2 linked regions of the Homo sapiens genome follow. The protein of the gene in region 2 interacts with the protein of the main gene of each other region in a pairwise test. Each region holds a gene or a part of one and is shown on either strand. Other genes may lie near its edges.

Region 1 (5,394 bases), on a different chromosome or scaffold from region 2:
AGTTTCTTTTGCTGTGCAGAAGCTGTTTAGTTTAATTAGATCCCATTTGTCAATTTTGGTTTTTATTGCCATTGCTTTTGGTGTTTTAGTCATGAACTCTTTGCCCATGCCTGTGTCCTGAATGATATTGCCTAGGTTTATGGTTTTGGGTGTTACGTTTAAGTGTTTAATCCATCTTGAGTTAATTTTTGTATAAAGTGTAAGGAAGGGGTCCAGTTTCAGTTTTCTGCATATGACTAGCCAGTTTTCCCAGCACCATTTATTAAATAGGGAATCCTTTCCCCATTGCTTGTTTTTGTCAGGTGAAAACCAATTTTTTAAGGCAAAAGATAAAAGAAGTTTCTTGTACTGATATTTGATGTCAGGGAAAAGGGTTGTGACAATGGATGTTTATTGTGCCTTGCCTTGAATGTGTATTGTACCTTACTGCTTTCAAAAAATAAAGTAGAAAAAAAAAGACAACATTGTTTATTACCAGTGTCAATATATGTGTTGACCTTTTTTTTTATTTTTATTTATTTATTTTTTTTTGAGATGGTGTCTCACTCTGTCACCCAGGTTGGAGTGCAGTGGCGCGATCTTGGCTAACTGCAACCTCTGCCTCCCGGGTTCAAGCGATTCTCCTGCCTCAGCCTCCCAAGTAGCTGGGATTACAGGCAACTGCCACCACGCCCGGCTAATTTTTGTAGTTTTAGTAGAGATGGGGTTTCACCATCTTGACCAGGCTGGTCTTGAACTCCTTACCTCATGATCCACCCGCCTCAGCCTCCCAAAGTGCTGGTATTATAGGCGTGAGCCACCATGCCTGCCTGGCCTTTTAACCCAAGTTACATTATAGAATTAAGCTAATAGTGTGTCTTGTGACCCCAGAGTTTTAACTGTGGAATTTCTGCCTCATTTGGGCCTTAACTTATTTGACTTATCGAAGTCTCTGCTTTAGCAAGTACTCATGATTCTTTTGAACTAAGTACACTAATAGAGTAGTACTATAGCCGAGCATGGTATGACATGCCTGTAACCCCAGCTACTTGGGAGGCTGAGGCAAGAGGATTTCTTGACCCCAAGAGTTTGAGACCAGCCTGAGGCAACAGAGCAGGACCCTGTCTCAATTTTTTTAAAAAACAGAATAATTTTTAAGAAAACATAAACCTCTTCTCTAAAAAGTGGGAGTAGTGAACTAATTCTTTCTAACACATGCAAATATTAAATGTTTCATATATATATATAGCCACTAGCATTAAAGGGTACAGGTAGGGCTTGATCAAAAACTTTGTTAATTCTCATAATTACAAAAGGAAGACACACTAAAACTGGCTTGGGGCTGCATTTGCTTGGAATTTGTGATCATTTAATTCATTTGAATACAGAAAGCAGAACTTAATTGGGTGGAAGGTTTTATTGTGTCTAAAGTGAAATATGAAAAAATATATTTTACTGCCTAGTTTATAAAGAGTAAGGTGATATTTATTTAAGGCCAAGATTATAAGACAGACGTTTTGTTCACATGGGTTTCCAGTGGAGATGGAGCAAGGGGAGTGGAGATGAAGGTAGAACTACAAAAAATGTTTATATACCATCTGTAATATTTTAATCCATTTCTATAAAATGTTTATCTAGAAACAGAATTATTTCCCTTTTTTAAATTTGTCTTTCTTTTTAGGCACTAACCAGGCTGTATCTGGACAAGGCCACCTTAATATGGAATGGAAATGCTGTTTCAGGGCTGGATGCCCTAAATAATTTTTTTGACACATTGCCTTCTAGTGAGTTCCAGGTCAATATGTTAGATTGCCAACCAGTTCATGGTAAGATCATGATCTTTCAAGATGCTTCCTTTGTTTTCCTCTAGTAAGCACTGAGCTTTTACACCAAAAGCAGCGAGAAACTTTTAGTGGTAGAACTATTTACTTACTTGAGCAAGTTAAATATTATGAAAAATGTAACTGTCCAGTCAAACTTTGGTCTTCCTTCAGATTCTTTCCACTAGTAGCTTTTGATGGATTATGTGATTTTGGCTTATTAAAAGTTGTATGAAAAGTTGAGATTAATGTGATTTTTGTAAATGGCAGGGAAAGATTATCTGATTTCTCTAAATAGTTGCCTGCTGGACCCTGAAATGTCTCCAGAGTAAAATTATACCATATCTCTGATTAATGTGTTCAGTATCTTACAATCTACTAATATTTCACAGAAATTTACTCTGTTATGTGAAAGGATGACTTTTTACAAGAAAATTTGATTCCAGGTAGATTGATACAGTTTAATAAAACCTCTAGGTGGGGTCCTAAGTGTCTTAAATTGTAGTTCAGGGTGATTTTTTTCCTTTATAATTCCTGAAAAGAACAATAGTTTAAGAAGCAAAGCATGAATAAGCTCTGTTAGAAACCTGAAATATTAATTCTGAAATATTTATATATATATGAAGCAAATGGTCCTATGCTAGATATAAGCTCCTCATTTTGAAACTAGAGTATCCCAAAGTTTTCTGGACTGAAAATAATTTTAATATCTTTTACTAAGTACTTAGTTTTCTGGGTTTGAGTATGCATGCTTAAGATTATGCTCAAGGGACAGAAAGTGTATGAAAAAAATTTTAAGCATTAGTCCATAAACAATGTATTTTAAGCCTGAAAATCTGCTTATTTAGAGATAGAAAATGATGTGTTCTCTTTTTTTTTTAATGTGGATGAAGAGCAAGCAACTCAGTCCCAAACTACAGTTCTTGTTGTGACCAGTGGAACTGTGAAGTTTGATGGAAACAAACAACATTTCTTCAACCAGAACTTCCTGCTGACTGCTCAGTCCACTCCCAACAATACTGTGTGGAAGATTGCAAGTGATTGCTTCCGTTTTCAAGATTGGTCTAGTAGTTAAAGGGGCAAAAGTCCATTCTCATTTGGTCCATTAGTTCCAGCAATTGAAATTTATGTGAATTATTTTGATTGTAGAAGCACTATAATATGTGCTGAAACTAAATTTCTTTAATATTTTCTATTCCTGTCAGCACCTTTTCTAGCAGCTGCCAGTTTGGAGCATTGCCCTCTAAGAGCTTTAAAACTATTTTTTTACATGCCTTATATACATTCCACTAATGACATTCTTATAATAATATTAAACACATGATCTTGGTACTAACATACTCACTGTGAACCCAGCCTATTGCAAAAATAAAATCTTTTTATAATATTATCTATGGGATGTCAGCACAATATAACACTCTGGGAAGAAGTGGAGTTTTTTGGTTATTAGGTTAATTTTCTAGTAAAACACGTTGCCTGTTTTCAGTTAACACTGGTAATGCCATTTTAATATATGGCTTTTTCAAATCAGTTCAGTGAAAATAGTACAGATTTAGGTTTACATAACTACTCTGACATACTGGAATTGCATATAGAGATGTTCAGTGGTCGTTTTTCATTTTAAGTAATTTTTGTTTTGGCATTTTTTTGTGTGAAGTAAATTAATCAACTAGAGAGGTGCAAAACGTTCTCAGTTGATATCTGAGTATTGGGTGCATTTGGTGGCTTAAAAGCAAAGCTTCCTAAAAAGATTTTTCTTGGCAGCTCCAGGTCTATACATTTAGGTAATGAATGGTAGTAGAACTAATAGCTTTAACAGGAGAATAGGGAATGAGAAATAGAAATCCAAGGCTGAAGCCAAAAGTAAGGAGGGTGGCCAAATGGTAAACTATTGGTACTTGTTTTCTACCTCCTAAAAATGTAGCTTATTTTTAGGATTTAAATCACTAAGTAAATAAGTATCCTTGCCAAGTGATCATGAGTGTCATTTTTGTTCTAAGACTAATATTTTTAGATCTTTTTACTTCACCTCATACTTATCACCAATGTATATCTCCATTTATTCAATAACTTACTGGGGTAAAATAACAGCAATAAACCTAACCTTTTAACAGGGTCTAACATGAGAGTTGGAGTCAAAGCCATTGTTATCTTTTGGTGACACCCTTAAATTTTAAGTCTTCCAGTCTTCCATGTGAACTTTAGGCCCAAAGTTTCTTATGTATCACACATCCCCCAAATAAGTGATTTTTTCCCAGTGCTTTGTACTGTCAACTGCATTATCTTTAATTATTTAAAGGTAGAATTATTTAATTTTGTGATTTGTTCTTCCATATGACATTGAGCAAATAGATCTGTTTCAAAATATGTTCCCGCTATGTGGATAACTCTTCTTTTTAAAAAGAAAATAGAGAATAGCAAATCTTCATGATAATCCTCAAAAGAACAAAATGCTTAACTTTATCTCTTAATTTCTAAAGGTAAATAACCTAGGTTCAGCTTTTGCTTAAACATTAAATATCTTTTCCATTTTTTAATGTTTGTAAGCTAGATATGCCAGCTTTGTTTCTACATTGCAACCAAAAACTGTTTCTTTTCACTTAATTATAAAACCAGTAATTCATTTACTCTTGCCCAAAACTATACACTGTATTTCTGTTATAGTAACAAAATAGAGTTATGTAGAATTGTATGGAACTCAAATTTAAACCATGCTTTCTTGTAGTACTGATTGAAACTTACACGTTTTATTCTACTCATAGTGAGCTTATTCTTATTTTGGATTGATTTTCCAAAACCACAGCTTCAGCAGCAACAATCAGAATGTCCAAATGCTGTCCTTTCCCTTACAGAGAAGAACAATGGTAACTAAAAGCTGCATATAACTAGCAATAACTACATTGAACGGTGTGCATTGTTCATGATTGTTGTGTTTTAAGACTTGTATATAAACTGCTTTTTCCAAACTCTGTATAACTTTTAAATGGCTGGAACTACTCGTATAAGGACTAGACTGTATTTTTGACATGCTCCTATTTTTGTAACTTGAAAAAATAAAATTTTGCCTTGTGACAGATTTTCTCAAGATTGTTTTAAGGTCTTTTGATTTTTGTTCTTAGGTTTCAGAATGGTTACTTGTTTCTTTACAATATAAGGTTTTTTAAATTTAGAAAAAAATTACAGTAGTGTGTTGACAACAATGGTTAACAACTTGGATCTTCTTTTGGTTCTTTCTGTAACCTGCCACATCTGTCTCCTTTTCCTGCCAATTATTCACATTCCTGAGATCATCACTTGTTTGAGATACCTGTAGGTTTTTGGTGAGAAGTTGGAAATCTTAACCTTGAGAAACCAGCTAAAATGCTATATTCGATAGGCAGTGAAACCAAAATACAGTTGATTTCCAGAAAGAATGGTTCATTAAATTTAATTCTACATTAAAAATATGTCAACACTACTGGGTAAATAACGAAATGAAGGCAGAAATAAAGATGTTCTTTGAAACCAATGAGAACAAAGACACAACATACCAGAATCTCTGGGACACATTTGAAGCAGTGTGTAGAGGGAAATTTATAGCACTAAATGCCCACAA
Region 2 (7,039 bases):
TCTGTTGGTTTGTATGTCTCATCTTTATGCCAGTACCACATAGTTTTCATTATTGTAGCTGATATGGCTTGGATCTATGTTCCTGCCCAAATCTCATTTCCAGTTGTAATCCCCAATGTTGAAATGGGGCCTGGTTGGAGGTGACTGGATCATGGGGGCAGTTTCTCATGAATGGTTTAGTATCATCCCCCTTGGTACTGTCTTTGCCATAATAGGTGAGTTCTCATGAGATCTGGTCGTTTAAAAGTGTGTGGCACCTCCCCCACCCTCTCTCTTGCTCCTGCTCCTGCCATGTGAAATGCCTCACTCCCTCTTTGCTTTCCACCATGATTGTAAGTTTCCTGAGGCTTTCCCTGAAGCCAAGCTGATGCCAGCATCATGCTTCCTGTACTGCCTGTGGAACTGTGAGCCAATTAAACTTTTCTTTATAAATTACCCAGTCTCAGGTATTTCTTTATAGCAGTGCAAAAACAGAACAATACATTAGCTTTGTAATATATTTTGAAGTAAGGAAGTGTGAGTCCTCCAACTTTTTTCTTTTTCAAAATTGTTTTGGCTATTCAGGGTCACTTGAGCTTCCTTATAAATTTTAGCTTAATTTTTTCTATCTCCACAAAAAACATGATTGGGATTTTGATAGGGATTGCATTGAATCTATATAAATTACCTGGGCTGTTATTCATATCTTAATATTTTATGTCTTTCAATCCATGGACATGGAATGTCTATTTATGTCTTAATTTATTTTAGCAATATTTGTAGTTTTTAGTGTACAAGTCTTTCACCATCTTGGTTAGGTGTACGCCTACATATTAGGTTGGTGCAAAAGTAATAGTGGTTTTTGCCATTAAAAGTACTGGCAAAAGCCGCAGTTGCTTTTGCACCAACATAGTATCTTAAGTCTTTCACCATCTTGGTTGAGTTTATTCCTAAGTATCTTAAACTTTTTTTTCTGTACATGTTCAGAGAAACTTCTTTAGTCATAAACTATAAAAATGATCCCTGAAAGTATAATTTTGATGCTATTTTAAGTAGAATTGTTTCCTTAATTTCCTTTTGGGATTTTTATCATTAATGTATAGAAATGCAACTGATTTTCATGTTGATTTTATATCCTGAAACTTTGTTGACTTTATTCTAATAGGTCTTTTTGTGTGGACTCTTCAGGGTTTTCTACATACAAGATCATGTCATCTGTGAAGAGATATAATTTTACATCTTCCTTTACAATTTGGATGTCTTTTATTATTCTTCTTGCCTAATTGCTCTGTGGGCATCTTCTTGTTCTTTATCTTAGAGAAAAAGCTTTCAGTTTTTTGAGTATGATGTTAGCTGTGGGCATTTCTTATATGGTGTATGTTAACTGAGGCAGTTTCCTGCTACTCCTAGTTTGTTGAATGTTTTTATTATGAAAGGGTATTGAATTTTGTTAAATGCTTTTTCTGCAACTATTGAGATGATTACGTGCTTTTTTTCTCTCATTCTGTGTATTATGCTGATTGATGATGAATAATTCTTGCCTTCCAGTTATAAAGCCCATTTGGTCATGGCGTACAATCCCTTTAATATGTGTTTTTTTTTTTTTTGAGGCGGAGTTTCGCTCTTGTTGCCCAGGCTGGAGTGCAATGGCGCGATCTCGGCTCACTGCATTCTCCACCTTCCGGGTTCAAGCGATTCTTCTGCCTCAGCCTCCTTGTAGCTGAGATTACAGGCGTGCGCCACCATGCCTGGGTAATTTTGTATTTTTAGTAGAGACGGGGTTTCTCTATGTTGGTCAGGCTGGTCTCGAACTCCTAACCTCAGGTGATCCACCCCCAACCTCGGCCTCCCGAAGTGCTGGGATTACAGGCATGAGCCACCACGCCCGGCCTAATGTGTTGTTGAATTCAGTTTGCTAGTATTTTGTAGTTTCCTCCTGGTTGCACCTCATCCTCACTATGTTGGATATGGGGAAGGGCAGGGATGAGTGCACAGAATGCCCCAAATTTTATTACCCCTTTCACTGGAATGCCTTCTTGGTTTTATGGCCTGGGTGCTGTAGTTTCTTAACTGTTCTCTAGAGTTCTCACAGAAGTAGTTCTGTTCCATATATTGTTTTATTTCTGAGGTGTATAACTGGACTTAAGTATAGATTTGGAGCCATAATATACATGGTAATTAAAGCTCATGAAGAGAATGAAAATATGTAGAATGAGAAGGAGGCCTCATATAGACCCTCAAGAATACCAACATTTAAGAGCTGGATTAAAGAAAAATTAGAAGGAACATCCAAAAATGGGATAAAACCAAACCAGGAAAAGTTTGTATCATAAAATCCAAGCAAAGAGTGCTCAAAGGAGTAAGCAAAAATAACACATATATTTTGGGAACTGTTGTAAGGACTTTTATATGTATTCTTAAAAATTAATCCTTTCAAGAATCCTATGTAAATTTTGTACTATTTTAATCCTCCTTTTATGAGATGAAAGAAGTGAAGCAGAGAAATCATGCAGCTAGTAATATATAAAAATGTTCATTATAGCATTATTTGTAATATCATAAAATCAGAAATTACCTAAAATCTATCAGTTGGGGGTTTAGTTAAATTGTGGTTTATGAAATGTAAAGAAGCCATTAAAAGAAAAAGGTTGGTCAATATGTATTGACAGGATTCCATAATATACTGTTGAGTGAAACACATTAGTTTCAATGTGTGGGTAATACTTTTTTAAAAAAAAATTTGTTTTGTTTGTGTATGTTGGCCAGTATGTGCATGGAAAGTGTCTGGAGGGATATACATCAGATTCATAGTAGAAATTTCTGGGAATTGAGCAGCACTTTTTCATTTTAATTGATTTACCCTTATTGTGATTTTTTTAGTATAGCATAAAAACATGTTTAAGATTTAGAGGATTCATTTGAGTTAGAAAATCTGAGAAAATTAAGTGGGTATGTATATTCTGTTATACAAAGACAAAGTGGTCAGTTTTACTAAGGCAAGATTTAGCCATGGGGAAGGATTTCATCTTCTTGAGATCAGACTCAGTATTTTGAGGAATACAATTCAGATTGCAATGGTTGAGGAATGAATAGGAGATGTAGAAATAATAAAGGTGCTAAATGCTATTACTTTCTAACTGCATGTCAAACATATTTAAAAATATTTAAATTGTAGGATAATCGAGTTCACATTGGACCAAAAATGGAAATTCGGGTCGTTACGTTAGGATTGGATGGTGCTGGAAAAACTACTATCTTGTTTAAGTTAAAACAGGATGAATTCATGCAGCCCATTCCAACAATTGGTAAGTATGAATATTGGTTTTTACCTTAATAGACAAACCCTAGCTTACAGCCAAGTTCTTGGGGTCTTATTTGATACTGATCTGTCATGGTGGTGGGCTCTTTTCTGGCTCTAAGATATCAGCATCTCAGAGAAAAAATGCAAGATTGTATGACTATGGGATTGAAATGTGGATGGGGATAAAAAGAAGAAACAGAGTATTGGTGGGACAGTTGGAAGGAATAGAGGATTGGTGATCCTGGCTGAGGGTGTGGGGTGGGGGGTAGTTGTGGAACAGAGCTGGAAGGTACATGGATCCCAAGGTCCTAAGGACCTTGGTGGAGGTTTAGAGGGCTAGGAGCTGTTACAGGTATACATTCACCACGTAGGAGTAGGAATGGGGTTGATTAGGCTTCAGTAGATATTGCTGCATGTAGATAATTTGATAAGTCACAGTTATAAACTGGGGGTTGTCTGTGTTTGATATGTCATTCATTGTAAATACAAATATAGTATAAAAGTAACTTTTTTTTTAAAACAGGTTTTAACGTGGAAACTGTAGAATATAAAAATCTAAAATTCACTATTTGGGATGTAGGTGGAAAACACAAATTAAGACCATTGTGGAAACATTATTACCTCAATACTCAAGGTGAGAGTTAAAAATGACATTTAATTTTTCACATTTTTAGGATGACAGTTTTCAGTGTACTGATTTAACTAGCAAAGCTGATACTTATGATTAAGTCGTTGACTGTATACTTAAGTACCTGTGGCCAGTTTCTTAACTTGTAAAAAATGAAAGTAGAAAGATTAGGATATATACTTTTAGTTTATTCCTGATATACCATTATTACAGAATAAAAACCATACGTAGCTTAGATATGTAGTCAGTTAAGAGTACTCTTGCTTCTCTTAACAGAGAGTGTATATTACCAGTATTATATGGGTGTGACTGCTGGTAGCGTAGTGGTATAGAGTTGAATTTATGTTGTATGATTCTGCTGAATTCAGTTAAACTCAACATTTATCCCATTATAATCTCACTATAGCCCCACTCCCACATTTCTTTCACAAATAGTTATTACCTGCAGAAGAACTTACAGTAGCTTGCTTTTGACCAAACCGTATTATATCATATCTATACTCTACATAGGTTTTAGTCACATTTGGGTCTTACTCTACACTTCTGCCTCATAGACCCCAACATAATGCTTACGCTCATGCCGCTTATTCTGTATGTTATTCTGCTTTCCACCAAGATGAGAGACTGAATAATTATTTTTACTTTGGGATTTTTGATATTATTATGAGCCATAATTAATAGAAAAAATGTATTTTTTTTTTGAGACAGAATCTTGCTTTGTTGCCCAGGCAGGAGTACAGTGGCATGATTGCATTTCATGGTCACCTCTGTCTCCTGGGCTCAAGCAATCTTCCCACCTTAACTTCCCAAGTAGTTAGGACTAGGTATATGCCACCACATTCAGCTAATTTTTTTTTTTTTTTTTTTTTGAGATCGAGTCTTGCTCTGTCGCCCAGGATGGAGTGCAGTGGTGCGATCTCGGCTCACTGCAAGCTCCGCCTCCCAGGTTCACGCCATTCTCCTGCCTCAGCCTCCTGAGTAGCTGGGACTACAGGTGCCCACCACCATGCCTGGCTAATTTTTTTGTATTTTTAGTAGAGACGGGGTTTCACCATGTTAGCCAGGATGGTCTCCATCTCCTGACCTCGTGATCCGCCCGTCTTGGCCTCCCAAAGTGCTGGGATTAGAGGCACGAGCCACCGCGCCCGGCCACATTCAGCTAATTTTTAATTTTTTTTTAATAGAGATAAGGTCTCACTATATTGCCCAGGGGTCTCGAACTCCTGGGCTCAAGTGATCCTCTCACCTCAGCCTCCCAAAGTGCTGGGATTATAGGTGTGAGCCACTGTGCCCTACAAAAATGAAATTTTGAATATGAGGAATGGTTGAAAGTCTGGAGATAGTTAACTTAGACATAATACTTTGGAGAAATAAAAATGGTGATGGTTTTTATCTTTTAGTCTTTTATTCAAAGACTAAATATTAGAAAAGTAGTATTCGAAGAACAAGTAGCATCCATAGGTAGAGGATCATGAGGCATATTTTGAAATTCGTTATGTAAAAAGTTATTTGATATACAGACCAATTTGCATTTGATAGAGCAAGTGTTGTAAATCCTTTCCTAGATGGGGAAACTAAACCTGAGAAGTTATGTAAACTACTTGAAATCATACTGTTAATTATTTGTAGGTGCCCCTGCCATACTAGGCACCCTCTGTGTGAAAATAATGATGGTAGACAAACTCTAACCATAACATAATAATGATATCATTAAATATTTGGTTCATTTACTGAACTTTAGCAAGTGACTATTTTTGTTTTTTTTATTTTTTTTTGGGTAGCTGTTGTGTTTGTTGTAGATAGCAGTCATAGAGACAGAATTAGTGAAGCACACAGCGAACTTGCAAAGTTGTTAACGGAAAAAGAACTCCGAGATGCTCTGCTCCTGATTTTTGCTAACAAACAGGTAATGCATTTTTATATTGGAATATTTATTTTAGTAGTTTTGTGCATGTCAAAAGGCAACTGGAAATATTTCAGAAGACAATCAGTTCAATAGATATTTATAGTTTCTTCTGTGTATTTTGAGTACAATCTATGTGAAAATGCTGTGCTGGGTACCTGGGAGTATACAAAATAGAAATAAGGTAGTTAATGCTCACCAGAAACTCCTGTGTATGCATATGAACACATAAGAGATCTGAATACGAAGAAGACTGATAAGTAACTTAAGTAACACAGTGTTACGGGAATTAGGAAAGTAGTTCTAAATGTGGCATGTTGTAAGATTGTAAAATGTAGAATTTGAGTTGAAATTATGCATGAGGCTGAGTCAGTATGTGAAAGGAAGAACATTATAGACAGAGAAGATAATAGCATGAATGTTTTTAGTTTAGGGAACATCAAGCAGATCTATATGTCAGGTCTCAGTAGAGGATGAAGAGAATTTAGAATAACAGACAAGGCCATGCTGTAAAGGTCTGACAGTGCTAGACTGAGAAATTTAGGTTTTATTCTATGAGCAAGGAGGAGTCATCAAAATGTTGGATTAGTGGGTAATAAGATCATATCAGTGTTTCAATACTATAATTCTAGGGGTAGAATGAATCAGGGCAAAGGACTGGAGACAGGGAGATGCAGTAAATTGCTTAAATAATTCAAGTGAGCATTAACAAGAGCCTGAATTAGAGGAATAGAAAGGCGGAGGCAGATGGAAAAGACTTTGAGGCAGAACTGGTGACTGAATGGGGAGGATGAAGGACTGGGAGTAGCTGAAGATTCCTAGACCTTGAGCCTTTCTAGGAGGATGAGATGCTTTTAAGTAGAGGCAGAAGGAGAGTAGAAGTGGAGCAGAGGAGATGTCATGGGAGGGGAAGAGTAGGATGAAGAATAAAGAATTTTCCCCTTAATAAAAAAGGCAAACTATTAAGAACTGGTATATTTAAGACATGCAAATAAGTCAGTGAAATACCATTTTCTGCTCATCAGATAGTTAAAGATGAAAGTGTTTTATAATCCTCAGACTTATATACAACTGTTACTATTATTATTTTGAGACTGAGTCTTGCTCTGTCACCAGGCTGGAGTGCAGTGGCACAACCTCTGCTCACTGCAACCTCCCCCTCCTAGGTTCAAGCGATTCTTCTGCCTCAGCCTCCCAAGTAGCTGGGATTACAGGTGCTTGCTACCAC

The links. Proteins that work in one complex are often made in the same cells at the same time.
Region 1: the proteins of TRIM23 (region 2) and NXT2 interact in binary tests that used the Homo sapiens proteins (3 or more experiments, as listed by UniProt).

What each region holds. Positions count from the first base shown.
Region 1 is NC_000023.11:109,539,815-109,545,208, forward strand, and holds the end of NXT2 (NTF2-related export protein 2), read left to right. Parts: intron 1-1,660; coding exon 1,661-1,805; intron 1,806-2,692; coding exon 2,693-2,874; 3' UTR 2,875-4,884; downstream 4,885-5,394. UniProt on the Homo sapiens protein: Regulator of protein export for NES-containing proteins. Also plays a role in mRNA nuclear export.
Region 2 is NC_000005.10:65,593,296-65,600,334, reverse strand, and holds part of TRIM23 (E3 ubiquitin-protein ligase TRIM23), read left to right. Parts: intron 1-3,154; coding exon 3,155-3,284; intron 3,285-3,803; coding exon 3,804-3,914; intron 3,915-5,689; coding exon 5,690-5,814; intron 5,815-7,039.